Linked DNA regions of Homo sapiens: region 2 is linked to region 1. Evidence: fine-mapped expression QTL. A gene starts in region 1. The other region holds a variant in brackets. All regions are shown on one strand. Distances are between the middles of the regions. Region 1 holds the start of PALM2AKAP2 (PALM2 and AKAP2 fusion). Region 2 overlaps PALM2AKAP2 (PALM2 and AKAP2 fusion).

Region 1 (15,232 bases):
GCATACCAATAACACAAGTCCACAAGGAACATGGATGGGGATGGTCCCCACATGAATCACAGTGCCTGTTTCTACAGGGCTTGGGTTTGAGTCTCTAACCCCTCTGAGGGATCCTTGGGAAGCTGGACTGGATAGTATGTAAATCATTGCAAGGACTTTTTGCCCATGCTGTGCAGGTCGGCCTAAAAGGCCTGGACCAAAAGCAGGGTGGTGGCCTCCTTGGCCACTGGCCCCACACTCCAAGCCTGGTACTCAAGGCTGTAATGCTCCCAGGCAAGAAAAGGCATGGAGAGGCGAATCCAACGAAAAGCCAATGAGCACTTCTCTGTAAGCCCACGGCACAGCCAGCCTAGGCCAACAGCGTATACCCAGGTCTATGCAGGACTGAGAATAGAATCAGATGAAAGCCATAAACTCACTAGCTGACCCCTTGGTGAGAATTTCAAGAATGAAAGAGGCCGAAAGTGAAATCCTAACAAGGGCATATTCCATAGAGACACATCCAAGCTCACTCCTCTCCTCCCAGCCAGAAGATTTTAGTCCAGCAGGATCTTAGTTGCAGTTTCAGCCCGTATCAAAGCACCCTTCCAAGGCTGGATGTACCACTAACACAAGTGATACGGTTTTGCTGTGTCCCCACCCAAATCTCATCTTGAATTCCCACGTGTTGTGGGAGGGACATGGTAGGAGGTAATTGAATCACGGGGACATGTCTTTCCCATGCTGTTCTTGTGATAGTGAATCAGTCTCACGAGATCTGATGGTTTTATAAAGGGGAGTTTCCCTGCACAAGCTCTCATTTCCAGTCTGTTGCCATGTGAGATGTGCCTTTCACCTTCTGCCATGATTGTGAGGCCTCCCCAGCCACGTGGAACTATAAGTCCATTAAACCTCTTTTTCCTTATAAATTACCCAGTCTCGGGTATGTCTTTATCAGCACGGTGAAAACGGACTAATACAAGAATTGGGAGTCAGGAGAGGCTGGGATTTACTACAACTCTTCCACCTCTATCTGTGTAAGCTTGGATAGCTCTGAATACTCACCTGTAAAGCGTATAAGATTTGCTCTACACACCTCAGGAAGAAGGTAGCATATACAAGGTTTTCATAAATTATAAAGTACTGCACAAATGCAAAGATCATTTTTATTACTTCACAGAGTGGGTTCTAATTAAATGACAAAATTCCCTAAAGAACAGCATAGGTTAGATTAGCATTTCCTATTTCCGCACATATATAAACATACTCATGCTGGTCCCTGGTGTAGCCTGAGCCTTGTCCACGTGGCTCTTAGGAGTTTCACCCAAGACAATTTATATAACATTTACTTATTTTCACTCATGCCCAAAGAAAACTATCTTCCTCTCCAATGTGCAGACATAACAGCACCCTCCCACAAGGTTAGTTTCCACTGAGACACAACAGCTTCTTCCCCATGGGAATGTTACTCGTTCCATTAAATTTTATGTTGGGTATTTCTATGCACTGAATCCAGGCTTGAAAGACTCTCAAAAGGAGGTAGGCCTCCTGGCTTGTCTCAAGCTTTCCCATTGCAATGGAATCAGTCTGTGGCTCACACTCAGGCTGCTGAGACCACCTGCACAGTGTGCTCATGGGAAAAGTGCGAGACGCTGCCGCCATCTTGGGTGGCAGCTCAGGGCAGCAGTCAAAGCAAAGGCTCCAATGGCCTGCTGCGGGCAGCATTCAAATCCTGGCTTTGATACTATCAGTTTAATGTTAGACCAGTTCTAGAACCTCCTCACCTATAAAATATGAGTAATACTGTAGTGCCTACCTCATAAGCTTCTTATTAGGATTCAATGAGATAATACATGCTGAAAAGCATTTCAGTGTTCACTCTGAGTTTGTGTCTTTAGCTACTGACTTAACTTCTTCATGCTTTTGCCTTTCCCTTTCTCACACTAAATGTCCTGAATAAATAATAATCAAATAACGAATAAACAAATGCCTCCTGGTAATTGGGAAGGTTATGATGTTATTTTATATTTTATTTTACCCAATTTTCAGGACTTACTCTAATGTCTTCTTTTTGGGGAATTGTTTCACAACTCTGAGATTGGTTTACATGTTCCTCCTGGATGCTCATTTTCATAGTACTCCTGGATAGTAACTGCTTATGTGCTTTTCTATTTCTTCCATTAGACTATAAATAACGTTAGGTGAAAAACAAAAAGTATTTCACACCGTGCCTTTCTGAATGAACAATATTCAATAAATGGCAATTGTTGTTATTAGTCCCTGGGATTACCATTCTCACTCATGCTGTTTCAGAGGCTTTTTACCATGTTCTAAATGTAAAGTTTGGGGAGTATCCCTACAGAAGAAAGGAGCATGTGAGTGTAGAGATCATTGTCAAAGATGGACTTGCTCTTCTTTTGGCAGAAATTAGGATAAGAGTCATCTTTTCTCATTGATTAGTTCCTGGATCCAAATGGAAGATTCCATTAAAGCACTGTAGTTTCTAAGTATTTAATTCAGTTTTGTTGGTGGGGGCGGATATTCCACAGATGTTCATGTGACAAGCATCTTAGGTATCAGGACATCTGTCCTTCAAGAAATTATGTGCAAAAGGTGAAATAAAGGTTTCAGCCTCAGGCAGCTGAAACCTGGGGACACCAACTTTTCAGTGTTGCCAATACCTTCCCAGAGGAGGCAATCTGTAAATACCTACTGAACAAATGGATGAATGAATCCTCAAGTCATATCTCTGCCTCTGTCTAAAGCAGTTAGAGAAAGTGATGCTGGGCAGGGCCCTGACTTTCAGTCAGTTGAAGGAAGGGATTAAAAAAGAGCTGTTCAGACCAAGTATAGTGGCTCATGTCTCTAAACTCAGTGCTTTGGGAGGCAGAGGTGGGAGGATCACATGAGGTCAGGAGTTCCAGACCAGCCTGGGCAACATGGCGAAACCCCATCTCTACAAAAAATTTAAAAATTAGCTGGGCATGGTGGCACATGCCTGTAATCCCAGCTACTGGGGAGGCTGAGGTGGGAGGATGGTTTCAGGATGCAGCGAGCTGTCATGGCAGCACTCCAGCCTGGGTGACAGAGTGAGACTCTGTCTAAAAAAAAAAAAAAGTCATTAATACACATTCCACTTCAGAGATGTTGCTTCTGACCCCCCACAGGACAAGACAGCAATACAGACAAAAGCTAAGGGCTCTGCTCAACACCATCCAATGACAGCTACCTGCCAGGTGCTTCACCTCCATCCTAACTAAACCTTACAACCAGCCCAGGAGGTAGAACTCATGAACCCATTCTACAGATGAAGGAGCTGAGACCCAGACTAAAGACTGCCCAAGGCCCTGCAGACTGGAATCCCAGTCGATTCTCTGCCTCTGAGAGAGAAGCCCAAGTAAGTGAAGATGTGAGGACCTATTGTCTTCTTCCCTCACATCTCCAGAGAGACTTCAGGAGTGCTAGGTTCTGGGGGCAGGCTTGTGATCTCCTCAGGGTCCCCTGAGAACTCCAGGAAAGTGATGAGAGAGTCAGGGTTTGCAGAATTCAGAAGAGTAGGCACTAGACCAAAGCATAGCATAAAACCATTTACCGATGTGGCCATAAGTCCCCCCACCCAACTCCCTCTGTCTCTTAATTGGCTCTCTCTCTCACACACACATACACACACACACACACACACACACACACACACAAACAAACACACGCTGTTAGCAAATCTGTCCTGACAACATCATACAGTCATCCCTCAGTATCCTCAGAGAATTGGTTTCAGGACCCCCTTGGATACCAAAATCAAAGGATGCTCAAGTCCCTATAAAATAGCATGGTATTTGCATATAACCTACTCACATCCTCCCACATACATTAATCATTTTCAGATTATTTATAATACCTAATACACTGTAAATGCGACGTAAACAGTTGATTATACTGTATTATTTAGGGAATGGTGACAAGAAAAAGTCTGTACATGTTCAGTACAGACTCAGCTATCTATTATTTTTTCCAATAGTTTCAATCCAAGATTGACTGAAGGCGTGGATATGGAACCCATGAATAGGGAGGGCAGACTGTATTAGGTGCACATTCATGAGAATAATCAACAGCTCCCCAGATACACAGGACAAACTCAATTCTTCAATAACTGAAGAGGCACAAGTGAGTATTTGTGTGTATTCTTATATGCTCAAGAGAATTCCCAAAGATTTGCCTAGATCTTTCTTGGAAAATCGACTTGGCCTCTGCTGGGATTACTCAACCGCACTTGGAAAAGGGTACCCCAGTGTTAGCAGCTACTGGCTCCATGTTTGGAAAGCAAGTCCTTTCATGGAGTTCAGCTGTTCCTCAGGCATCCAGTAAAGCTGGTTGTGCAAAGGCAGAAAATGTGACAACTGTTGGAAGCCTTCAGCAGCAGCCAATGGGAACAGCCACTGCATCAACAGTTAAAGCAGCCTATTATCCAGTTCACACAAAACACCCACCAGCTACATGGCACCATTAACTCAATATCACCATTCTTATCAAGTTCATGACACACTGGCCATGCTGCCTTGCCACCAACTTTAGAAACCACAAATAACTTCACAAACCATCAAAATACACATGCACAGGGGGAAAGAGAAAGAAGAAAAAAACAACCTTTCTGAGTTCAGAGCACCACGTTCAAAGATTACCTAATAGGCAAACCATGGCATTTCAATATTGCCAGCAAACATCTCTCTCACTTCAGTGGTGAAGTCTCCAAGACATTTCAGATTTGAGGCGTTTGAGAAAGAGGGTCTCAGAGCCTTGGAGACCATGTCAAATGCTTCTAAAAAAGGAAGGGTCTGTGTGCATTTTCCCAATGAAGAATCTGTCCAAAAAGGTTTTGGAAAACGCTTTAATATACTTTGGTTCCAAAACATTACACACTATTTCTCCAACAAATTTATATGTGTTTCCAGAGAACTTCCGAACTGAAAAACACAAATGTATTTAGGTGGAAGAATGTCTGGAGATTCTTTTATGCCAATATGTTAACGGACCTTCTTTTTTAATTGTTACTATTTCATACGGCAGCAGTAATCATTCCCTCATCCTCGAAGGAAATATATAATCCAGCTGTGGTGGCTCCAGTAAAAATACCACATCTGTGGATCATTGGCAACACTGTGTTAAGATTGCTCAAATCTAGGCAGTCTCAGAGAGTTCTTTTTTAAACCCAAGATGCACATGGGTACACTTTTCTGAAAGTGCCTACGAACTTTGCCAAAACTGACTACTCCTTTGTAGGCTGAAAATAGGTTTTCAGATACTCCACACCATAAGAAGGAGGCTCTCATGGAATATTATAACCAGGACCCAGTTGTATGAAGTCCCCAGACCTCCAGGGTGGTGGCTTGTGCCAGTGCCCTTGTCAATATCAAACAGAGAAGGGAAAACTAACATTCCCGGTTTCTGGGAGGAGGTTCTACCGCGTGGCTGGCTGAGTCGCTGACTCCTGGTTTTCCACTTAACAGGAGGACAGCTTCCGCAGAGAGGATGGCAGCCACCGTTCAGGTCACCCTTCTCTTGGTTCTCCAGGCTATGAAGCCAACGTATGCCTGAGCATTCGGTCATAATATTCCTGGAGTCGTCCCCCCACCCCAAGCCTCTGTTTAGTCCTTCCCCAAAGCCCAGCAGCAAGCATCTTTTTTTAAGCCAATCTTCCACATTCAAATCCTCAGTCCAAAGCGCGCCCTTGGGGGTCTCCATCTATAGACATAGAAAAGAAAAGGCAGCCTAGCTGAGCCCTGACAGAGTTTTAGCCCCTGGAACATATGACCTGCGGCTACTGTGCTGGCATGCCGCTTGCCCCGAAACCCTCGGGGGCCCCCTTCCACCCCAGACAATAGAGCAAGAAAATAAAATGAAAGTGGACTTACTGCTATGGCTTGCAGCCTTTCCTTGTGCAATTCCGCCTCTGCCATCCTGGAGAAGGGCACACAGGCAGGGGAAAGAGGAAAGAAAAAACACACGCTGTAGTCACCCAAGGAAACTGATGGGCACCCCGGGGGGCTTTGCTAGAACCCGGGAGAACGCCCAGGGACGGCTGGGGATCCGCTCCAGGGGCGGCGGGCAGAGCTGTGCGCACGGCGGGCTCGCCCGGGCTCAGCCTCTGGCCCCCGCCCTCCCGGCCGCCTGGCTGCGCCCCAGCGCCGCCGCTCACTGCATCTCCCGGTCGCCGCCGCCGCCGGCCGCGCCAGCCGAGGACGTGGGACGCCGGCAGCCGCCGGGAGGGCGCGCTAGCCCGGCGCTAGTTCTCCGCCCTGACGTCTCGGTGCCTCGCTCCGCCCCTGGAGTGTGATGGACCCGAGGCCGCGGTCCAAGGCGGCTCCGAGCGATCGCCGCCGCGGGTCTCCAAGGCGCAGACGGAGGGCGCGCGAGCCAGTGGGCACCTGGGGCGCGGGCGCACGGCGAGCCGCTGGGGCGCACGGCTGGCGTGGCGCGCCCGCGTGGACACGCGCTTGCTGGGGCGGAGGCAGAGCGCAGTGGCGCCTCCACCGGGCAGATGCCAGTGGAGAGGGGCGTCTGACCGAATGTGGGACCCGAGCACGTGCTGTTACGTGGGGGCTGGGGCCACCGAGTGTTCAGGGCACCTTCTGGCTCAAGCCAGACGCTTGAGCTCCACGTGGGGACATTTACAATTTGGGAAGGGCTGCCTTGCCCAAGTGGCCCACATGCTTAAGATGACCAAGTTCTCAATATCAAGTCGGCCGAGGGTAGGGTATATCTCCAGAGAGGCCACCCTTCTGGTGAGGCGATATGTGGCCTTAAAAGAAGCCGAGAGTTTTTAGTCCTGGGTGCTAGACTAGATTTCACAATGTGTTAGCTGTGAAATCTCAGGCAACTCGCTTAATCACTCTGAACCTCAGTTTCCTCATCTGAAAAAATGGAGGATCACATAGGTGTCATTAGAGACGAATGAGAGACAGTATGTAAAGGTGCTTTGTAAAGGGCATCACAGACATCTGCTCTTATTATCCTGTGACATTCTGGATTGAAATCCTTTCAGGGTCTTCTGTTCATTGCATCTGAAAGGAAAAGTAGGATCTACTCACTAAAATATTTCACCTATTCTTTACTAAAACAGGATACCATGTGGTACTAATGTGAGTCTTTTGTGACAGGTCCTGGACTGGATGTAAGAAGTGGATCAGGCCCAGTCCAAAAGGAGATCAATGCCAAAAGCAAAAAAAAATGCCTCTTCACATTGAGGCAGGACCTGCTAGAATTCCCAACATTCATATGCAAACGTTTCTTCATCAAATGAAATAAACACTGAAATAACTAATATGGCCTCTTTAGAGCCATAGGATTTAAAGGCATGTTAAAAGATATACACATCAGGCCAGATGCGGTGGCTCACACCTGTAATCCCAGCACTTTGGGAGGCCAAGGCGGGTGGATCACCTAAGGTCAGGAGTTCGAGACCAGCCTGGCCAACATGGTGAAACCCCTTCTCTACTAAAAATACAAAAAATTAGCCGGGCGTGGTGGCAGGCACCTGTAATCCCAGCTACTTGGGAAGCCGAGGCAGGAGAATCACTGGAACCTGGGAGGCAGAGGTTGCAGTGAGCCGAGATCACATCATTGCACTCCAGCCTGGGCAACAAGAGTGAAACTCTGTCTCAAAAAAAAAAAAAAAAATGCACATCAAATTTTCCCAGATCACCTGTTTCCTGAATAAATGCTTCCATTTCAACTAAATTGCCCTTTCAATTTTCACAGAGGTTCACCTGTCACTGATGAACAATTACTCCTCTGACCAAAGATGGAAGCACTCACCAAAATCGTTTACTGATGGATTGTTTTCCCATCTTTTTCATAACAAGTGTAGGTGGAGCTGATTGTTTAATAAATCCAAGCCAGTGCCAGATTCTACATCCCACTCCAATATATCAGAAACTTCTACTTTCTGGCTAAGCCCATCCTTTTCTTCAAATGCATCCTTTTTTCTTCATTTCCAGCACAAGCCCCAGCAGGACAAGTTATTTAAAGGGGTTTGCTCACAAATAAACAAAGCTGTTATTGCTTCAGCAGAGTGATTGTAGAGAATACTAAGATGAGGAAAATGAGACCAGAGAGGTTGAAAGACTCAGCTACAGTTATAGAGCTGGGATTTAAACTCAGATCACACTCACCAGAGCCCATGCTCTTAACCATTAAGCACCAGGCTTGGCCAATGATATGGAGATAGAAGCAGGCCCCAGGAATAAACAATTGAACCAGAAATGGTCCTTCTACTCCCAGCTATACAGATATTTAAAAGGTATGATTGAGCACAACAGTGTGAATGTACTTACTGTCATCAAACCATATGCTTAAAAGTGGTTGAAATGGTAAATTTTAAGTTTTGTATTTTTAACCGCAATAAATTTTTAAAAGGAGTGATGGAATGGGGAGATGGAGAAGGAAAAGGGCCTGGGCACCCTTTGGAAGTGATCAGTTGGAAATATCTGAACTCTGAATAGAAGAATCGGGGTTGGGGACACACATCCAAGTGTCATCTACTTTGCGGTTACAGCTAAAGAAATGAGAACAGCCAGGATGAGAAAACAGAGCAAGAAGAGGAGAGAGCCCAGCAAAGAAGACTGATAAAGTATCATCCGAGAAGTAGAAGGAAAAATTCAAAGGGATTTGCACCAAAAGCCACAAAGAAGGAAAGAGGTTTTCAACAGGGTCATATGCTTCTGAAAGGTCATGGGGGATGCAGATGAAGAAGAGACCATTGGAGGGCTGTCAGTAAGCCATGAGTGACTTGTGTCCAGAAGATGAGCTTGGAAGCACTTACAAGAGGTGAGGAATGACTGCTACCAAGTGAATGTTGAAAATAAAACAAACAAAAATGGGGATGAGCGAGAGATCAGAGAAGCAACCATGAGTACAAACTGCTTCTTTCAGCTCTTCAGATGTGAAAGATGAAGGTGGAGAACAGGAACATAGCCCATGGGAAGCAGGGTCTAGTGGAAAGGGTTTTTAGGTCAGGCAAGACTTGGATGTTTGGGGGTCAAAGCAAATTAGACAACAGGGAAATTAGGCCAAAGATACAGTCAAAAAGGAAGGTGAATATTAGTCAAAGTCTCTAATTAGTCAAGAGGACATTCAGATGAGCATCACATTAGCCAGTTAGCCTTGGGAAGAAGGAATAACGAAGTAGGGAAGGAGGAAGAAATGGATAAAGACAAGAAGAAAGTTTGAGTTCAACTCTCAGGAGAGAGGTTAAGTGAATTTGCATCAGATGGACTGGTTTTCCCAATTGAACAAAGAGTCATTGATTAAGACTGATGGCGTAGGGTTGGGGCTTCAGAAAAATAGAAATCGTTTGTAAAGAAACTGTGAAAGATGAGAAAGACTAAAACATGGTTCCTAATCAGAAATCTGCATCAGAATCTCCTGAAGACCTGTACAGAATTAAATTTCTACAGGGTGATGTGGGAGTTAGGGATGGGTTTAGAACCTTTGTACTAATTGAATTTACTAGGAATAGACTAAAGACTCATGACCAATAGTGTGTACTTCCTAAGTGATTTTTAACTGCCCTGAGACCCACAATAAAAAAAGCTTGTGTTTATTCAGTGTTGCGGATTATCAAAGCAGGTAAGACAAAAAGCCAAAGAAGAGAGGAAATTCAAAATGCTTCTGGCCAGGTAGGAAGTGTAACAGACTTGTTCATATACACATTTTTTTTTCCTCTGGCTGGCCAATTTGTGAACTCCTTCCCATCTTTGGGGATTTCCCATATTAAAAGCCATAGTGAGAGGCAGAGCCACATCCTGTGGTAGAAGCTGGGAGGTATCAGACACTTGTTCCCCAGATCCCCCTGAAGCCATGGTATGGCAGGCAATCTCGGCTCAGTCAGGCATGTGTGCCTGCCAAGAATTTTGGAGACTGAGCATGTTAGAGAATTCCTTCAGGCTATTAGTTCACCTTTGGTTGTACCCATTGCCCAAGCTTCCTTCTTTGGACGTTCCATCTCTCCTGTGAGCTATCTAATACAATTTCATTTCATTCTTTTTCTGCTCCTATCAGCCAGAATCTATTTCTGTTGCTTGGGACCAAGAACCCTAGGTGAAACAGGAAGGCACATGAAATGACTGCCTGATGGTTGGCCAAGGAGCAGAGGGAAAATCTTTTTTCCTCTTCCAGCACTTCTTTCAACTTTCTAAATTTTAGTATTTTAAAATCTTTGAACCCATTACAAACACAGGCATTTAAAACCCAAACTATGCTATTTATTTAATAAACATATTGTATAATTATTTTATATTAGATGTTTGGCCATGGCCTGGTATTAAGAAAAAAAATCGTAGTCTAGTGCCACAATGATATTGGTGACTATTTGCCCTCCAAACATTTAAAATCTGGATATATACATCACAATGATGCATAATGTATGTAACAAATCACTAGTTCTTGCTGGGACATTAAATTGTGTTGCATAAACACCATCTGTACGGTTTAGTGGTTTTTATGATAGATGCTTCATTGCAAAGCATTATACGAAAAGGATACAGAATGCTAGATATGCAAAATAGATGTTTTGTTAATAAAAATTTCAGAATCTATTTTAGAACATGAGTCCTTTGAGAATCACAAACGATCATAGCCAATTCCTTTGTGGGGAAAACAAGAGCTCTGTATACCAAAAGGGAAATGACTTGCCAAGGCCCGTTGTGTGAGTAAAAGTCAGTCTTGTTGAGCAAGAGCTATGAGTGTGACATTTCCCAGCAACCTGAAGCTTCCCTTGGACAAAAGTAATTTTGAAAGGAATGCCAGGATCCCCTCAAATGTTTATATTTGTGTTAGTTCTTTTTTGCCTGGGATCTTTTGAAAATAAATGGTCATTTAAAACATATGTGATAGCTGCACAGAATCAAAAGAAGGAGAACATTGCCTGTGGTCCTCTTGGCTCCTGTGGTTGTTAGCTCTTTGGGAAAGTTGATGGGATTTCAAGTATATGCTATTTTTCTCCATGGGATCCAAATGATAGATTCATTTAGGGAGTCCCCATGGAGCAAGAAGATAGAAAGAAGTCAGAAAACAGCACCATTGTGAAAAATAAACTAGGCTGAATGTTGCTTAAGGTATATAGTGGCTAAGGTCTTTACATAGCAGATTGAAAATGAGCAATTGGAAATCTGGCTAGAAATGAATATCAATATTTCACTGTGATGACTTCCTTTTCTCTTGGTTAGCTTTGGCAATGTCAGTTGATCAACATGAGTCCCTAGAGGAAACTGGGTAGATAAGGAGAGTGTACGGGAATCAATTAGAGCCAAATGGTTAGAGATCATTCTACATTTATTTTGTTGTGGTAGTATGGACAAATCACATAATAGATTAGAATGACAGTTTCCTTACATTAAGATGGAAATGAAAATATGTGATGTCCAGTCTCATTGGGTTGTCATATCTGATAAGTTTAAATACTGTGTTATTCAGATGTTGGTCCAGAGTGGTAGTCCTGTTAATGACAAAAGTTTTGAAAAGTAGGATTAGGAAGTAGGAGGTAGATATGACACAGAAAAGACAGGAACTCTGAAGACAAGTTGGAATCTCAGCCCTCTCACAGGGATGTTGTAATAAATAAGGTTAACAGATGTAAAAGGCTTGTGATTGGCCATGGTAGGTGCTCTGGAAATGGTAATCTTGATCACTCAACCCAATCATTGCTTCATGAAAAATGCCATGGACCAACTTAAGTGAATGACTTCATTTTATCCACCCTTTTATGTAGGCTTTTTTTTTTTTAAGGGTTGAGCTATCGGTATTCTTAACATTCCTCCCATTAGTCAGTACTTCTCATTTTCCATCTTTTAAACAAGAGGATTCTGCCCTATGTCATTTATTATCTAGAAACACCTTTACTAGACTCTGCTTTTAATGATTCTTAGACATCTACAGTCTTATCTTTTAGTGTGGGTCAATCTAACAATTATAAATAAGAAGGAATTTAAAAATTTAAGAGGAGATAGATTAAATCCTAGGAAAATATGGGAAGAACAGCTTAATTTTTGAGTATTAGGAAGAGAGCTACATGCCTACATATTGAAGGTGCTCTGTGGTAGAAACAATTCTAGGTTTGGCTATGAATTAGCTACAAACTAGAAAGTCTTTGGGAAGGCCAGGTTCTACTCCAGCCTGGTTATCTGATGCCAGTAGACACAGTCAGGTCATTGGTTTCTCAGAGAGCTTAGGGGCCAGTCTGGTTTACCTTAGCACAATGACCACGATGTGCTCCGTCAGCTTGGAATCCCTTTTGGTAGCGTGGCCATCAACACTTTCATTGTTAACCATGTTTCAATAATGCCGTGTACATTCTGCAAGTCAGCACTGCTGACAAGAGAGAAATTTCCTGCGGGGTTGGCAGTGGAGGGATGGTGGCCTGCCTACTAAATCCTGTCCACCCTGCTGGCTGGGGAATGAATAATGAAATTGGGAAAGCCTAGCTTCAGCTCCTACCACCTATGGATGCTGTGCCTGCCTGACACCTTTGGGAATGACAGAGGTCTCAACTGCCCCTTGCACACCCTCCATATATTGACTAAATGGATCCTAGCCAGTCTCAAAAATTGCTCATTACTAATGTGTGACCCTCCCAGCCAGGGCCTCCCGGACAAACTGCCTTTCCCCAAAGCAGCTCATGGTAGAGTGGAATGAACATAAGACAAAGTATCAATCCTAGGTCCTAATCCTAACTCTGCCACTTGCTGTGTGACTTTGTACAAGTCACTTGCCTGCTCTGAACTGAGGTTCTCTATTTGTAAAATGGGAATAGGTTTTCCATCTGTAAACTGGGAACAGGGATAGCTAACTAGTCCCATTAGATTCTTATAAGTTTAAAGTTCGTGAATGAGAAAGTGCTCTGAGAACTACAAATGCTGTGAGAGTGAAGAACTACAGTGAAATAAAATACTTCAAAAGTAGGGCTTAGGGACATGCTGACTGGTTGGTGGGAAGATGTTTAGAAGGTGTTGCAGGCCAGGTGCAGTGACTCATGCCCACAATCCCAGCACTTTGGGAGGCTGAAGTGGGAGGATAGCTTGAGGCCAGGAGTTCAAGACCAGCCTGGGCAACATAGTGAGACCCTACCTCTACAAAAAAAAATTTAAATTAGCCAGGTGTGGCAGCATATGGTTGTAGTCCCACCTACTCAGGAGGCTGAGGCAGGAGGATCATTTAAACCCAGGAGGTCGAGGCTGCAGTGAATCATGATCGTGCCACTGCACTCCAACCTGGATGAGAGAATGAGAACCCCATATCAAAAAAAAAAGACTTTGCAACATTCTTTTTTTTTTGAGATGGAGTCTTGCTCTGTCACCCAGACTGGAGTGCAGTGGCACGATCTTGGCTCACTGCAAGCTCTGCCTTCCAGGTTCACGCCATTCTCCGGCCTTAGCCTCCCAAGTAGCTAGGACTACAGGCGCCCGCCACCACACCCGGCTAATTTTTTGTCTTTTTAGTAGAGATGGGGTTTCACCGTGTTAGCCAGGATGGTCTCCATCTCCTGACCTCGTGATCCGCCCGCTTCGGCCTCCCAAAGTGCTGGGATTACAGGCATGAACCACTACACCCGGCCCGACCTTGCAACATTCTATAGCCACTGTAGACTCAGTGCACCGGGAGAAAAGGTTGTGCTAACACATAAGATAAAATATGCTTTCAAGTTTTTGGAAGGGTTTCTAAGATGATCAAGCCAGTAAATGAAAATGCCAGCACCACCTGGGGCTCTCATTCACTCCTTGATGTTTCTCAGTCACTCCAGTGATTTCCCCTTCATGGGGTTTGAAGACCAACAGCCCCACATTCTGATCTACATATCTAATTAGCTTAAATACACGCAGAAAAGAGTGTAGCAGTCAGAGGATGAGATGGGAGAAACAGAGATAAGCAGAAGAGAAGGAAACAGAAAAACTTGGATCTTTTGTCAGTTGTGTGTGTGTGCCAAACCTATATTTGAATGCTGTTTGGTCTGTGTTTACTTTAATGTGTTCTTCTTTCTGCATTCATTCAGAGCTAAATTTATCCCACTAGAGAAGGCATACTTGGGGAGGTGGGGGTGGAAAAAGAACAGACACAAAGGCGGCTGCTTGACTGGGAGCCAGGAGCCTTGTGGAGTTCCCTGGAAGAAGACGGTGGTAGCCAGCACATGGAAGGTAGCCACTCCAGAGGCTCTGTGAGGACTCTGTGCAGACTTCACAAGGGAAGGTGTTTCCACAGGAGCCTCTGCGCCCTTCGCTTTTGAGAAGGAAGTGACCAGGAACAAGACTTTAGAACTTGTAAATTAGAAAAAGCAGTTCTATAACTCCCATGAGCTCCCAAATCTGGCCCAACCCTTCAGGAAATGAAGACTCAGCAGCTCTCTGGCCTCCCCAGGGAAAACAGTGTCTGTCCCCACGGAAAGAAGAAGGGCAGCTGGCAGGGCCACTTCTGCTGCAAAGGTGATCTTGCTTTCTATTGGAGGGTCATGCCAGTTGTTTATCTGCTGCGGTAATGCCTCTGGGGTGGGAGGGGAGGAGAGGGAGGTTGTTGCATTCCACCTTCTGGGTCGGATTAAGTATTGTGCCCCTAAAACTGGAGGTAGGATCATTAATGCTCCCTGGGCTGCGACCCAGGTGCCTCCTGTTGGTCCTTCATGATTTTCTTTCTTCCCACTCAGTTATCATCTTTCCTCCTCTAATGCCTTACTTCTCACTCCCCCAGAGTGAGCCCTTCTTACACTATTTTCTGTCAGTGGACAAGTCATTGAAATTGAGATAGCTTTTCCTGCGATCAGAGAGTTCTCTGTTAGAATTGAAGACCTTTCTGTAGAACAGGTAGTCAATTTCCATCTGGGACTCTGTCCATCATTATGAAACTTCCCTTCATTGATTTGGGGGAAGGGAGATTTCTAGGATTCTGGGATGGTTCTCCTTTGTTTTAGGCTCAGATAAGTCACCACAGCATCTTGCCAGAGTTTTACCCTGTATTTGGTGTCTAGTACCCTCCACTCCTCCCCAGAGAACTTGACACCTTCTTCATCTGTTCGTCCCATTCCAAATTTGGTGCTTTCTCATACCATGAGCTATGCTTGGAATGCAGCTCCCCCTCCTTCTTCTAACTTTCCAAGTCCCTTCTTGTTAACTTCACAGAGTTCCAGAAATCCCACCCCCTCTTGGTATGCTTGTCAGTCCCTTTGGGAAGGAAAAGGGGTTATCCCTCCTAATTCCAAACATAGCATGACTTGCAA
Region 2 (15,232 bases), 220 kb before region 1:
CACAGCCAAACAAAAGGCAGCAGAAACCTCTGCAGACTTAAATGTCCCTGTCTGACAGCTTTGAAGAGAGTAGTGGTTCTCCCAGCACACAGCTGGAGATCTGAGAATGGACAGACTGCCTCCTCAAGTGGGTCCCTGACCCCCGAGTAGCCTAACTGGGAGGCACCCCCCAGGAGGGGCAGACTGACATCTCACATAGCCGGGTACTGCTCTGAGACAAAACTTCCAGAGGAATGATCAGGGAGCAATATTTGCTGTTCACCAATATCTGCTGTTCTGCAGCCTCCGCTGCAGATACCCAGGCAAACAGGATCTGGAGTGGACTTTCACCAAACTCCAACAGACCTGCAGCTGAGGGTCCTGACTGTTAGAAGGAAAACTAACAAACAGCAAGGACATCCACACCAAAACCCCATCTGTACATCACCATCATCAAAGACCAAAGGTAGATAAAACCACAAAGATGGGGAAAAAACAGAGCAGAAGAACTGGAAACTCTAAAAATCAGAGCACCTCTCCTCCCCCAAAGGAATGCAGCTCACCAGCAATGGAACAAAGCTGGACAGAGAATGACTTTGACGAGTTGAGAGAAGAAGGCTTCAGACGATCAAACTACTCCGAGCTAAAGGAGGAAATTCGAACCCATGGCAAAGAAGTTAAAAACCTTGAAAAAATATTAGATGAATGGCTAACTAGAATAACCAATGCAAAGAAGTCCTTAAAGGACCTGATGGAGCTGAAAACCACGGCACGAGAACTACGTGATGAATGCACAAGCCCCAGTAGCCAATTCGATCAACTGGAAGAAAGGGTATCAGTGATGGAAGAGCAAATGAATGAAATGAAGTGACAAGAGAAGTTTAGAGAAAAAAGAATAAAAAGTAACAAACAAAGCCTCCAAGAAAAATGGGACTTGTGAAAAGACCAAATCTACATCTGATTGGTGTACCTGAAAGTGACAGGGAGAATGGAACCAAGTTTGAAAACACTCTGCAGGATATTATCCTGGAGAACTTCCCCAATCTAGCAAGGCAGGCCAACATTCAGGTTCAGGAAATACAGAGAATGCCAAAAAGATACTCCTCGAGAAGAGCAACTCCAAGACACATAATTGTCAGATTCACCAAAGTTGAAATGAAGGAAAAAATGTTAAGGGCAGCCAGAGAGAAAGGTCAGGTTACCCACAAAGGGAAGCCCAGCAGACTAACAGTTGATCTCTCAGCAGAAACTCTACAAGCCAGGAGAGAGTGGGGGCCAATATTCAACATTCTTAAAGGAAAGAATTTTCAACCCAGAATTTCATATCCAGCCAAACTAAGCTTCATAAGTGAAGGAGAAATAAAATACTTCACAGACAAGCAAATGCTGAGAGATTTTGTCACCACCAGGCCTGCCCTAAAAGAGCTCCTGAAGGAAGCACTAAACGTGGAAAGGAAAAACTGGTACCAGCCACTGCGAAAACATGTCAAATTGTAAAGACCATCGATGCTAGAAAGAAATTGCATCAACTAACGGGCAAAATCACCAGCTAACATCATAATGACAGGATCAAATTCATACATAACAATATTAACCTTAAATGTAAATGGGCTAAATGCTCCAATTAAAAGACACAGACTGGCAAATTAGACAAAGAGTCAAGACCCATCAGTGTGCTATATTCAGGAAACCTACCTCATGTGCAGAGACACACATAGGCTCAAAATAAAGGGATGGGGGAAGATCTACCAAGGAAATGGAAAACAAAAAAAGGCAGGGGTTGCAATCCTAGTCTCTGATAAAACAGACTTTAAACCAACAAAGATCAAAAGAGACAAAGAAGGCCATTATATAATGGTAAAGGGATCAATTCAGCAAGAAGAGCTAACTATCCTAAATATATATGCATCCAATACAGGAGCACCCAGATTCATAAAGCAAGTCCTTAGAGACCTATAAAGAGACTTAGACTCCCACACAATAATAATGGGAGATTTAACACCCCACTGTCAACATTAGACAGATCAACGAGACAGAAAGTTAACAAGGATATCCAGGAATTGAACTCAGCTCTGCACCAAGTGGACCTAATAGACATCTACAGAACTCTCCACCCTAAATCAAGAGAATGTACATTCTTTTCAGCACCACACCACACCTATTCCAAAATTGACCACATAGTTGGAAGTGAAGCCCTCCTCAGCAAATGTAAAAGAATAGAAATTATAACAAACTCTCTCAGACCACAGTGCAATCAAACTAGAACTCAGGATGAAGAAACTCACTCAAAACCGCATAACAACATGGAAACTGAACAACCTGCTCCTGAATGACTACTGGGTACATAACAAAATGAAGGCAGAAATAAAGATGTTCTTTGAAACCAACGAGAACAAAGACACAACATACCAGAATCTCTGGGACACATTCAAAGCAGTGTGTAGAGGGAAATTTATAGCACTAAATGCCCACAAGAGAAAGCAGGAAAGATCTAAAATTGACACCCTAACATCACAATTAAAAGAACTAGAGAAGTAAGAGCAAACACGTTCAAAAGCTAGCCGAAGGCAAGAAATAACTAAGATCAGAGCAGAACTGAAGGATATAGAGACACAAAAAACCCTTCAAAAAATCAATGAATCCGGGAGGTGGTTTTTTGAAAAGATCAACAAAATTGATAGACCGCTAGCAAGACTAATAAAGAAGAAAAGAGAGAAGAATCAAATAGACGCAATAAAAAATTATAAAGGGGATATCACCACCAATCCTACAGAAATACAAACTACCATCAGAGAATACTATAAACACCTCTACACAAATAAACTAGAAAATCTAGAAGAAATGGATAAATTCCTCGACACATACACCCTCCCAAGACTAAACCAGGAAGAAGTTGAATCTCTGAATAGACCAATAACAGGCTCTGAAATTGAGGCAATAATTAATAGCTCACCAACCAAAAAAAGTCCAGGACCAGATAGATTCACAGCTGAATTCTACCAGAGGTACAAAGAGGAGCTAGTACCATTCCTTCTGAAACTATTCCAATCAATAGAAAAAAAGGGAATCATCCCTAACTCATTTTATGAGGCCAGCATCATCCTGATACCAAAGCCTGGCAGAGACACAACAAAAAAAGAGAATTTTAGACCAATATCCCTGATGAACATCGATGCAAAAATCCTCAATAGAATACTGGCACATCAGTATTTTATTTGATGTGAATCTAGCAGCATATCAAAAAGCTTATCCACCATGATCAAGTGGGCTTCATCCCTGGGATGCAAGGCTGGTTCAACATATGCAAGTCAATAAACATAATCCAGCATATAAACAGAACCAATGACAAAAACCACATGATTATCTCAATAGATGCAGAAAAGGCCTTTGACAAAATTCAACAACCTTCATGCTAAAAACTCTCAATAAATTGGGTATTGATGGGACGTATCTCAAAATAATAAGAGCTATCTATGACAAACCCACAGCCAATATCATACTGAATGGGCAAAAACTGGAAGCATTCTCTTTGAAAACTGGCACAAGACAGGGATGCCCTCTCTCATCACTCCCATTCAACATAGTGTTGGAAGTTCTGGCCAGGGCAATCAGGAAGGAGAAGGAAATAAAGGGTATTCAATTAGGAAAAGAGGAAGTCAAATTGTCCCTGTTTGCAGATGACATGATTGTATATCTAGAAAACCCCATCATCTCAGCCCAAAATCTCCTTAAGCTGATAAGCAATTTCAGCAAAGTCTCAGGATACAAAATCAATGTGCAAAATTCACAAGCATTCTTATACACCAATAACAGACAAACAGAGAGCCAAATCATGAGTGAACTCCTATTCACAATTGCTTCGAAGAGAATAAAATGCTTAGGAATCCAATTTACAAGGGACATGAAGGACCTCTTCAAGGAGAACTACAAACCACTGCTCAATGAAATCAAAGAGGATACAAACAAAAGCATGAACATTCCATGCTCATGGGTAGGAAGAATCAATATCATGAAAATGGCCATACTGTCCAAGGTAATTTATAGATTCAATGCCATCCCCCTCAAGCTACCAATGACTTTATTCACGGAATTGGAGAAAACTACTTTAAAGTTCATATGGAACCAAAAAAGAGCCTGCATTGCCAAGTCAATCCTAAGCCAAAAGAACAAAGCTGGAGGCGTCACGCTACCTGACTTCAAACTATACTACAAGGTTACAGTAACCAAAACAGCATGGTACTGGTACCAAAACAGAGATATAGACCAATGGAACAGAACAGAGCCCTCAGAAATAATGCCACATTTCTACAACTAACTGATCTTTGACAAACCTGACAAAAACAAGAAATGGGGAAACAATTCCCTATTTAATAAATGGTGCTGGGAAAACTGGCTAGCCATATGTAGAAAGCTGAAACTGGATCCCTTCCTTACACCTTATACAAAAATTTATTCAAGATGGATTAAAGACTTAAATGTTAGACCTAAAACCATAAAAACTCTAGAAGAAAACCTAGGCAATACCATTCAGGACATAGGCATGGGTAAGGATTTCATGTCTAAAACACAAAAAGCAATGGCAACAGAAGCCAAAATTGACAAATGGGATCTAATTAAACTAAAGAGCTTCTGCACAGCAAAAGAAACTACCATCAGAGTGAACAGGCAGCCTATAGAATGGGAGAAAATTTTTGCAATCTACTCATCTGATGAAGGGCTAATATCCAGAATCTACAATGAACTCAAACAAATTTTCAAGAAAGAAACAAACAACCCCATCAACAAGTGGGCGAAGGATATGAACAGACACTTCTCAAAAGGAGACATTTATGCAGCCAAAAGACACATGAAAAAATGCTCATCATCACTGGTTATCAGAGAAATGCAAATCAAAACTACAATGAGATACCATCTCACACCAGTTAGAATGGGGATCATTAAAAAGTCAGGAAACAACAGGTGCTGGAGAGGATGTAGAGAAATAGGAATACTTTTACACTGTTGGTGGGACTGTAAACTAGTTCAACCATTGTGGAAGTCAGTGTGGCGATTCCTCAGAGATCTAGAACTAGAAATACCATTTGACCCAGCCATCCCATTATTGGGTATGTACCCAAAGGATTAGAAATCATGCTGCTATAAAGACACATGCACACATATGTTTATTGCGGCAGTATTCACAATAGCAAAGACTTGGAACCAACCCAAATGTCGAACAATGATAGACTGGATTAAGAAAATGTGGCACACATACACCATGGAATACTATACAGCCATAAAAAATGATGAGTTGATGTCCTTTTTATGGACATGGATGAAGCTGGAAACCATCATTCTCAGCAAACTATGGCAAGGACAAAAAACCCAACACCACATGTTCTCACTTGTAGATGGGAATTGAACAATGAAAACACATGGACACAGGAAGGGGAACATCACACACCGGGGGCCTGTTGTGTGGTGGGGGGAGGGGGGAGGGATAGCATTAGGAGATATCCCTGATGTTAAATGACGAGTTAATGTGTGCAGCACACCAACATGGCACATGTATATATATGTAACAAACCTGCATGTTGTGCACATGTACCCTAAAACTTAAAGTATAATTAAAAAAAGAAAAAAAATAGAGAAAAATGGAATGGTCCATTCAATAAATACAAAAATTTCAGTCTTTAAAAAAAAAAAAAAGGAAAGAAAAGGAAGAATCTACACTCAAATTTGTGTAAGCTAAGTACACAGGGGATCCTGGGACTCAGCCTTCTGCTGCCAGCTCCTCCTTGGTGGTGTCTTAGCTCAGCCCCAGTGTGGCATCTCCACCTCCACCCTCTGCTGGGAACTCACAGTTCTGATCATGGCCCCATTTAGTGGGACACAAATTAGGGCCTAGGCAGGGAGAGCCCTGACATGTGTCTCATGGTGCTTCCTGGTCGATGCTGCTTCAGCGGGCCGTTCTCCACGCAAAGCACCTGTGGGCAGGAACTGGGCTTATACACAGTTAGTCTCATCCAAGTGTTTGTTAAATGAGAAGTGTTAGTTCTGGGCAGGAAGTTTTGGGCGACAGGAGCTTCAGAGAGTGCCGAAGGAGAAAAGAAGAATGCTACAAGAGAGAAGGCAGAGGGCACTGGGAACAGATGGTCCCAGGCCTCAGTCCATCCCCCTAAACTGGAGAGGCAGGAACCACATGGGTGGACTAGACTAGACCATGTCTGGGTGGTGAGACCCTGAGCACATTTTTTTTATTTTTATTTGTTTTTATTTTATTTATTTATTTATTTATTTTGAGGCAGTCTTGCTCTGTCACCCAGGCTGGAGTGGTGCAGTGGTGTGATCTTGGTGTGATCTTGGCTCACTGTAATCTCCACCTCCAAGGTTGAAGTGATCCTGCTGACCCAGCCTCCCATGTAGCTGGGATTACAAGTGCACGCCACCAAGCCCAGCCAATTTTTGTATTTTTAGTAGAGACGGGATTTCGCCTTGTTGGCCAGGCTGGTCTCAAACTCCTGATCTCAGGTGATGCACCCACCTCAGCCTCCCAAAATGCTGAGATTACAGGCGTGAGCCACCGTGCCCAGCCAGACCCTGAGCACTTTGAAGATAGGGACTGTCCTCCCTGCTGTCCCACCCCAGGCCTCAGTCAGCACAGTCTGGGCTGGCACACAGTGGGAGCTCATTAAATATTTCCCAAATTGAAGTGGAAGGGGCCTCGAGGCTGCCTAAGCTACTCTCCCATCAGGGCAGAAGCCTCCTCTAC[A/G]AAGTCACCTGATGGATGACATGGCCTTTTCCTGGTCATGGTTCTTACTACCTCACAAGGTCATGCACATTGGGCAGCTAGAATGGACTATCCCCCCTTTTTTTTTTTTTTTTTTGCGACAGGGTCTCGCTGTCACCCAGGCTGGACGGCAGCGGTGCAATCATAGCTTACTGCAGCCTTGAATGCCTGAGCTCAAGCAATCCTCCCACCTTAGTCTCCTGAGTAGCTGAGACTACAGGCTCCCCACTCCCCCGCCCTGGTCAGAAAGTACCATATTAAGAAGAGCTGAGCCACAAACAATTCAGAAAAATAAGATCCCAGATGATGACCTATGTAGCCTGGCTTATGGAGAGGACATGGTGAGGCGCCCTCCACGGCTATTGAGTGTTCGCTTTTGTTTGCTGGGACTTTGGTATACCCTTCTCAGCCTTCCAGCCTTCCTATCCATCCTGATTATTCTCGTCCTCATCACACCCCTGCTTCTACCTTCATCAGCCCACTGTCATAGACACAGCAAAGGAACTTTGAGGAAGTCTGGAGCCCGGCCTTTTGGGTTTCAAGGAGAGATACAAGGCTCTGAGTTGGAAAATAAGTTGTCAAAGTCTCACAGTCAGTAGCCACTAAGCTGGGACTGAAGGAGACAAGAATGCCTCTGCTTTTCCTAAACCAGACTTCTTCCTGGACAAAATCATATCAACCCCATTTTATAGGCAAAAGATTGGCCCACTGGGGAATCATCTTGCTTGATCACAACAAAAAGAATGGGGTTAGCTCTCTTCCTCACTAGAGTCTCTGCACAGACAGCCATCACATTGAGACTTGGCCAGTTATTTCTCTTCCTCTTAATTGCCTTTGGCTCCAAGTAACCCTGTGGATTTTTAAAATCTCACTTTGTTCTTGGAGGATTTCTCAGCAGGGTGGGCATTAGAACTTAGCGGAACTTCAGAACAATGATCTGCCTTTAAACACTTGGCTTTAGGAAGCCCCACCCCAGGATAAGCTGATGGGGCCTGCTTCCTCTGGATGGGAAGCTCTGCCCCGGGTTTGAAGGAGGAGGGCAGGATGCAACCCCGTCCCACCCTCCCCACTCCAGGTGGTGGCTCTTCCTTGGTCCTGAGCTTTCTCTTCCTTAGGATAGCTATGAGGACCAGGCCCTGCGGCCTCCAAATAGAGGGCAATTCCCTCTCCCTCTTCTGCTCTCTCTTAGGAGAGCTCATTGAGAAACAGGAAGGTCCATCTTTTGGATAAGTTATTTTTCTCGAACTCACCATAGGTTATTGGAAACCTCTCCTGCAACCCCAACTATTTCTCCTTGAGTAGGGGAGTCCTCTCTGAGTGCCTCTGAGTGGATGTTAAAGGATCTCAAATATATATATGTGTATATAAAACCCTCAATGTCTTGCCAGTGTGGCCCCATGTCTTCTCAACCCCCTTGCTCTGTTTGCCAGCGGGGCTGCAATAGTAGCAGTAATGACAGCGAGACTATCCAGAGGATGTACTATATATAGCCTTTATGTGTATTACCTTACTTAATCCTCATACAACATGATGAGGTAGACACAATATTATCCCCGCTCTGCAGATGAGAAAACAGGCTTGCAAAAGTTAAAATGACTGAGCTAACAAGTGATGGAATCAATATTTATTTATTTACTTTTTATTACTTTATTATATATTTATTTATTTTTTCAAGAGAGGCTCTTGCTCTGTCACCCAGGCTGGCATGCAGTGGCGTGATCATGACTCACTTGCAGCCTCAACCTCCTGGGCTCAAGTGATCCTTTCACCTCAGCCTCCTGGGTAGCTGGGACTATAAGTACATGCCACCACGCCCAGTTAAATTTTGTATTTTTAGTAGAGATGGGGTCTCACCACGTTCGCCAGGCTGGTCTTGAACTCCTGGATTCAAGTGGTCCACCTGCTTCAGCCTCCCAAAGTGCTGGGATTACAGGCGTGAACTACCACACCTGGCCCATATGTTCTTATGTACACACATGCACACACACATGCACTCTTAGACATTTATGTGCAGGCTTGTGTGTACGCATGCCAACCCACACACATACATGTGCACAGCCCATGCACACACCCATGTGCATGTGCACACACAGATGCATATCTGGGCATGAAGCTGCAATAGCTTTCCAGCTACCACAGTACACTCAGAAGCTTGGACCTCTCTTGAAGGAGAAAAGAGCTTTTCTCTGTCATAGCATCTGAGAGTGGGTCAGAAAACTGGGTGTTTCAACACCCTACCCTCAAAGGTGCGTTTTAAACATCCTTCTGTATATGAAGAAGGAAGCAGACTCCAATTGCACAAAATGAGAGCAAAAAAGGATCATGGTACATTGTTTAAAATGAGTTTTACAGGACCCTTGAGGCCCAAACTAATTTTGGAAATGGTTTGTTTTGGCTAGCCTGTGCCAGTCCTCAGAAATTAAAGCCTTTTTAAGCAACCATGAGACTTGCAGCAAGTTCAAGGGACTGTTCCTTTTCCCTACTCAAAGGTTAGAGAACTAATAGCTTAAAACTTGGTTTCCTCTCCAATTATTTCACAAATATTACCATTCAGTGGGGCCCCTTTCCAGGTCCAATAAAAGATCCTGTTATATTCTCCACATACTCTAATGATTAAGTTTGCCACCCTTATTTTACTAGGCTGGAAACATATTTAACATTTGCTCCCTAAAAATGTGACATAAAATTAAACAAAACCCAGAGTCACTGTCTTGGATCTAGTTTCCATCCAGAGGAGATGTATTAAACAACTAGTTGTTAAAACAGCAGGTGGTGACAGGGACATATTTAGAGTCTTTGTGCTCTTGGAAGGGTCAGCTACCCATCTGGTGGTCTGTGACATTCCTTCTCTTGCTGTATAAATTGTGTCACTAGGCTGAAGGCAGAGTGGAGAGCAAAGCCCTTGGATTCATGGAGAAGCTGGGACCTGCAGTATCTTTCCTGCCTCATCCTTCCTCTCCATCCTCATGGCAAGTGCACCAGTTCAGGCCTCCAAGGTCCTCAGCTCAGATCTGTCTTCCATTCCATGACCATCATTATTTTTCAGAAATGTAGCTGTGCTCACATCACTCCCCACCTGATATGGTTTGGCAGTGTCCCCACCCAAATCTCAAATTGTAGCTCCCATAATGCCCACGCCATGGGAGGGACCTGGTGGGAGGTAACTGAGTCATGAAGACGGGTCTTCCTCATGCTGTTTGCATGACAGTGAATAAGTCTTGTGAGATCTGATGGTTTTATAAAGAGGAGTTCCCCTGCACATGCTCTCTTTGCCTGCCGCCATGTAAGATGTGACTTTGCTCCTCCTTCACCTTCTGTCATGATTGTGAGGCCTCCCTAGCCATGTGGAACTGTGAGCCAATTAAATCTCTTTTGTTTATAAATTACCCAGTCTTGGGTATGTCTTTTTTAGCAGCGTGAGGATAGACTAATGCACCACCTCAACTGCATTCCTTGCATTTCTGTTGTGTTGCAGGCATGGTGCTTGGGCTGGAAAGATTAAGATGGAAAGACCCACCCCCTGCCATCAGGCAGTCTGGGAGGTGGTTTTCTGTCTGTATAATCTGATTTCTAGCACTGCTCCTTCCTCTCCCTTTTCTTACTACATGAGGCCTCTCCTGGGTAGGTGGCCAGGATGTTCCATTTCCACCCTGAGTTCTGGGTGTCCTGCCAGAGCTTCCTCTCCAGTCCCTGGGTGGGAGAGGGCTGTGGCAGTGTCAGGTCACCTATGGGAGCTCACCCAGCCATTTAGGAAACTCACTTGAATCATGTAGAAGCCTATAAAAGAGAATATTTTTAAAAGAATTATCTGGAAAGTTCCAGAAGGGTTTTAGGGTAATCATCCACCCAGTGTTATACATGGCAGCCCTGGTGGCTTGTAGACATGCTGTGGTATTTTGTTATGGCAAATGAATTCTAGCAAATGAATGCACTTGGGTACCACCAGGTCAAGGCATAGAACAAGAGAGCCCCTGACTCGCAGCTGATGGGTGTGGGGCAAAGGTCAACTCCCAGAACCAGGTCCATGGCAGGGCTCAGGATCAGAGCCTCCCAGCAGAGTCAGAGAGCAAGGGGGCTTGAGGAAGGGAGAGTCTAAATATGAGTGTTGGGGGACAACTCACCAAGCCTGTGGGTGTGGGGTGGCGGAGGGGAGACAGAGCAATGGAGAACACAGAGATGACCAAAGCAAGACCAGTGATGCAGGACGGGGGAGTAGGAGGTGGTCAGGATGGAGTCCAGGGACTGGACGCTCAATGCTCTTGGCAGGCTGTTTGTGAGTGGGGTGAGGGGGTTGGTTTGTTTAGAGGGTTTGAGTCTAAACTGCTGTGGGGCTAAATGTGCTGAAAGCAGAAGGATCAAGATATTAGTTATGTAGTTTTCATATTGCTTTATGACCCAGTGTTGCTTTCAATTCAAGAGTGCTTGTATGATTGGAAACAAAAAAGCCTGAGGTTTCTCAAGTTTAAAAACCCATTCGGGAGTTTGGCTGGACCCACTACAGAAGTCTGGAAGCTAAAACACAGATACTGTTTGTCTAGTCTTTTGGGATGTATCCATAACTTAGCATCAAAGTGGATACATCCCAAAGTCTTCCTCTGCCGTCATGTGCAAATTCATCTATCTCTGTCCTGGACACACATGCAAATTTTTAAAGCACTCACAACTCAAAATGACACAGGATCACTCTGATGATTTGATATACGATGTGAATAAAAGTTACCAATGGGAGTTCCTCCCGTCCTCCCTCCCCTTAGCTGCTAAAGGAACCTGGCACTGGCAGGCTCCATTTCTTTCCCGTCCTTACCCTTAAGGGAGAGTTCAGTATTTGCCAGCCCAGTAGCTAGGTATTTATAATACTGAATTGGGAAAATAAGTAGGAAGAGATAAGCTGGAGAGGCAGGAGGAAAAAGAAAGGAGAAAAAAGAGAGAGGCTGAGCTGCCTAGACTTGAGGGAGAGGAGGAAGAGGGTGAGAGACAGGGAGAGATGAAGAGAGATGTGAGGGGAGAAAAAGAGGGGGAGAGAGTAAAAGAGAGAGGAGGAGAAGAAAGGGAGACAGAGAGAAAGAGAGTGAAAAAGAAGAGGGAGAGAGAGAGGAAAGGAGAGAGAGAAAAACAGAGGGAGAGAAGAAAGGGAGAGAGGAAGGGGAGGGAGAATGAGGAGAGGAAGGAAGAGAGAATAGTGGTGTGAGGGGAGGAATCAGAGTAGACAGTGATGGTTTTGGCCTTTGGCCCTCCCAACACGGACTCCCCCTTATTATGTTAATAGCACTCCAATTTCCCTTTGGGCTGCTACCCTCTTCTATTCCTAGTTTATGCAACTCACATAGAGGTGCCTCCATTCCTAAGTTTTCTTCCTCAGGAGGTGGTCAGTGTCCTACTGACAAGTTTAGGGATGGGCATGTGATAAATGCACGTGACAGAGTTGGCCCAATGAGAGCCAGCCCTGGGACTTCCCTTAGAATGCTGGAAGAAGGAAACTCTTCTCAATGAGTTTGCTAAATTGCTCAATTGCTAAATAACACCTGGGAACCCTGGTGGCCACCTCTTAGTGGAAACACTATGCAGAAGAGAAAGCCCACAGAGAGGAAGGCAAAGCTGGGAAATGGAGTCCAACCCAAAACAACAACTCCTGGACTTTTCAAATTTGCAAGAAGATATTATCTTTTTTTTTTTTTTTAAGGCACTTTGAATTAGGATTCTGTCATGTGTGACCAAAAGAGTACTGAACAGAGAGACTCCAAGAGGAGCAGCTGCAGGGGACAGAAAAAGGGATCTTCATTGATGTTCTTTAAGAATTAAAAGGAGGGAGTGTATATTTAGGGCAACTTGAATCTATGCTCCTGGGTTGCAGTCCCCAGGCTTGGCCCAAATAAACTCTCTCTGCTCTCTCTCTCTCTCTCTCTCTCTATATATATATATATACATATATATGAATTTAAAAGAAAAGATTGAAACTCCTTTCAATGGTTTTTGGAAGCTAGACTATGCTTCCGTGCATGTGACATTTCACCAAGACTGTGTGGTCTTCCCAAGTGTGGTCCCAGGATTTAGTAGAGTCATTTACTACAGGACTCATAGCATTAGGAAATGCTATGGTCAGAAGAGATGCTAGAAGTCATCTAGTTGCATTCTCTCTTTAGCGCTTACACCTCTTCAAGTATTTTGAAAAACTCTGATTACATTTGCACACTTCCAGGGATAAGGAACTCACTTTCATAAAGGCAGCCTGTTATGGATTGAATTGTGTTCCTCAAAAAGATACTTTGAATACAAAAATTAGCTGGTTGTGTTGGTGCATGCCTGCAGTCCCAACTACTCAGGAGGCTGAGATAGGAGAATCACTTGAGCCCAGGAAGGCTGCAGTGAGTCATGATCACACCACTGCACTCCAGCCTGGGCGACAGAAGTAGACCCTGTCTCAAAATAAATAAACAAAGTAAATAAAATTAAAAAGATATTTTGAAATCTTAACCCCTAGTACCTCAAAATATGACCTTATGTGGAAATAGGATCTTTGCAGATGTAGCCAAGTTAAGATGAGGTCATCAAGGTGGGCCTTAATCCAATATAACTGGGAGTCCTTAATAAGAAGAGAGACTGACAGCCAAGAAGATGGTTACATGAAGACAGAGGCAGAGATGACAGTTATGCTACCACAAGCCAAGCAATGCTTCGGGGAGCAGAAGCTGAGAGAGGCCCGGAAGCACCCCTAGACCTTCAGAGAGAGTATAGCCCTACCAACACCTTGATTTTGGACTTCTAGGCTCCAGAACTGTGAGAGAAGAAATTAATTTCAACCCAGAAAAAAAACAAGGTTGTTTCAAGCCACCCAATATGTGGTACTTTGCTATGGCAGTCCTAGGAAACCAATACACAGCCCATTCCATTTTTAGCAACTTTCAGGTCAGAATGTTCTTCTCGACACTGAGCTAGAATTTAATTTTATGTAACTACTGGTCCTAGCATGGTCTTCTGGAGTCAAACACACGTCTATTCTTCCTCTACAAAACAGCCTTCAAGCTTCCAGGATGCGATTATGTCCCAGCTGAGACATCCCTTTGTTTATGTTCCTAGGTCATTCACCATCCTGGTGTCATTTAAAGCCTGATGTCTGCAGCCATAGAGCTGTTTGCTCTTTCCTTAGCGGCCACCAGAGCTACGTTGCACAAGCTATCCTCAATATCTTCTTCTTTGAGATGTATACCAGCAAGGCTTAAGATGGACTGCAGCTCAGTATTAGGGGGAGGAGTTACTCCCTTTGAGAATCTTCGAAAGTGACACCTTTTTATTCATAATCTTAAAGACGTGGTGGCCAAGTGTGGTGGCTAAGTGTGGTGGCTCACGCCTGTAATCCTTACACCTTGGGAGGCCAAGATAGGAGGATTGCTTGAGTCCAGGAGTTCTAGACCAGCCTAGGCAACACAGGGAGGCCCCATCTCTGAAAAAAAAAAATTTAAATTAGCTGGGTGTGGTGGTGCTTGCCTGTAGTCCCAGCTACTCGGGAGGCTGAGGTGAGAGGATGCCTTGAGCCCAAGAAGTTGAGGCTGCAGTGAGCCGTGATCACGCCACCACACTCCAGCCTGAGTGACAGAGGGAGACTCTGTCTTAAAAAAAAAAGAAAAAAAAAAATGTGATGATGGTTAAGGCTATTATAAAAAGCTCTTAGAGGAAGAAGAAAAACTGAGACATAGAGAAAATGCTGTCAATAGGTAGCACTTAAAAAAATAACCTGGCTCCCTTCCCAACCAGGGAGGCAGAAATGTTGCTCTCTGCACCAGTCTCACCCTGGGTGAGCTGCTTCAAGAACCCCCAACAGTCAGAAACAGAGGTAAGGGGTAATTGCCCTAGGAAGCCCATATCCCTGAGCCCTAACTTAGAGGACTTCCCTACTAGCCCAAGATGGCCCTCTTACACTAGTTGAAAACAAATTACTCGGCACCAAAAGGAAATTTGGAAAATGCGGAAAAAGCCTCTCAACGTTGTCTTCTAATTTTTTTCTCCAAGAGTAAAAATATTACCACAGATTTACAGGATTCTGGGCTCATGTTTATCTCACAAGGAACAAAAGGCAAAGTATTCTGGCAAATGTGCCATTTTCTGGCAATGTCACTGATTCAGCTTTACATTCCCACACCCAAATGATCTGTGGCTTTGGTCTGATGCCTATTGCAGTAAAGCGAAGCTGCCTTTGTTCAACCTAGCCAGATGGCTTCACTTTTACTTTGACAGAGAGTTGAATTTTTGAGCCATTTTAAAGGTAGCTCTTGAAGCAAGGACTAAGAATCTGAGGAGCTGGCTCTGAACTCTGCCCTGAGACCCTGCTTTTTAGACTAGGATCAACTTGGGGTACGCTTACATAGGGTCACTAATGGAAAGAGCTTTGACGACACTATACAGAAATATGTGGGCTCACTGTGCCACACCTGTTCTGACACACTGAAGTGCAGCCTGTTGCATCTTCATGAAGACATCTAGCCAACCCCT

The links.
Region 2: its variant is fine-mapped to the expression of PALM2AKAP2 in whole blood (INTERVAL, PIP 0.98).

The regions. Positions count from the first base shown.
Region 1 is chr9:109,771,187-109,786,418 of GRCh38, reverse strand. It overlaps PALM2AKAP2 (PALM2 and AKAP2 fusion), which reads right to left and starts at 6,221. Exons shown (of 11, transcript NM_007203.5): 1 at 5,886-6,221. The coding sequence starts at 5,930. PALM2AKAP2-AS1 (PALM2AKAP2 antisense RNA 1) reads left to right here and starts at 14,148. Exons shown (of 3, transcript NR_171891.1): 1 at 14,148-14,444.
Region 2 is chr9:109,990,378-110,005,609 of GRCh38, reverse strand. All of the region lies in intron 6 of PALM2AKAP2 (PALM2 and AKAP2 fusion), which reads right to left. Among named protein-coding and RNA genes, the nearest start is that of C9orf152, 210 kb to the left of the region's middle. RefSeq lists an enhancer at 1-317. The variant A/G (reference allele first, on the strand shown) is at 6,731.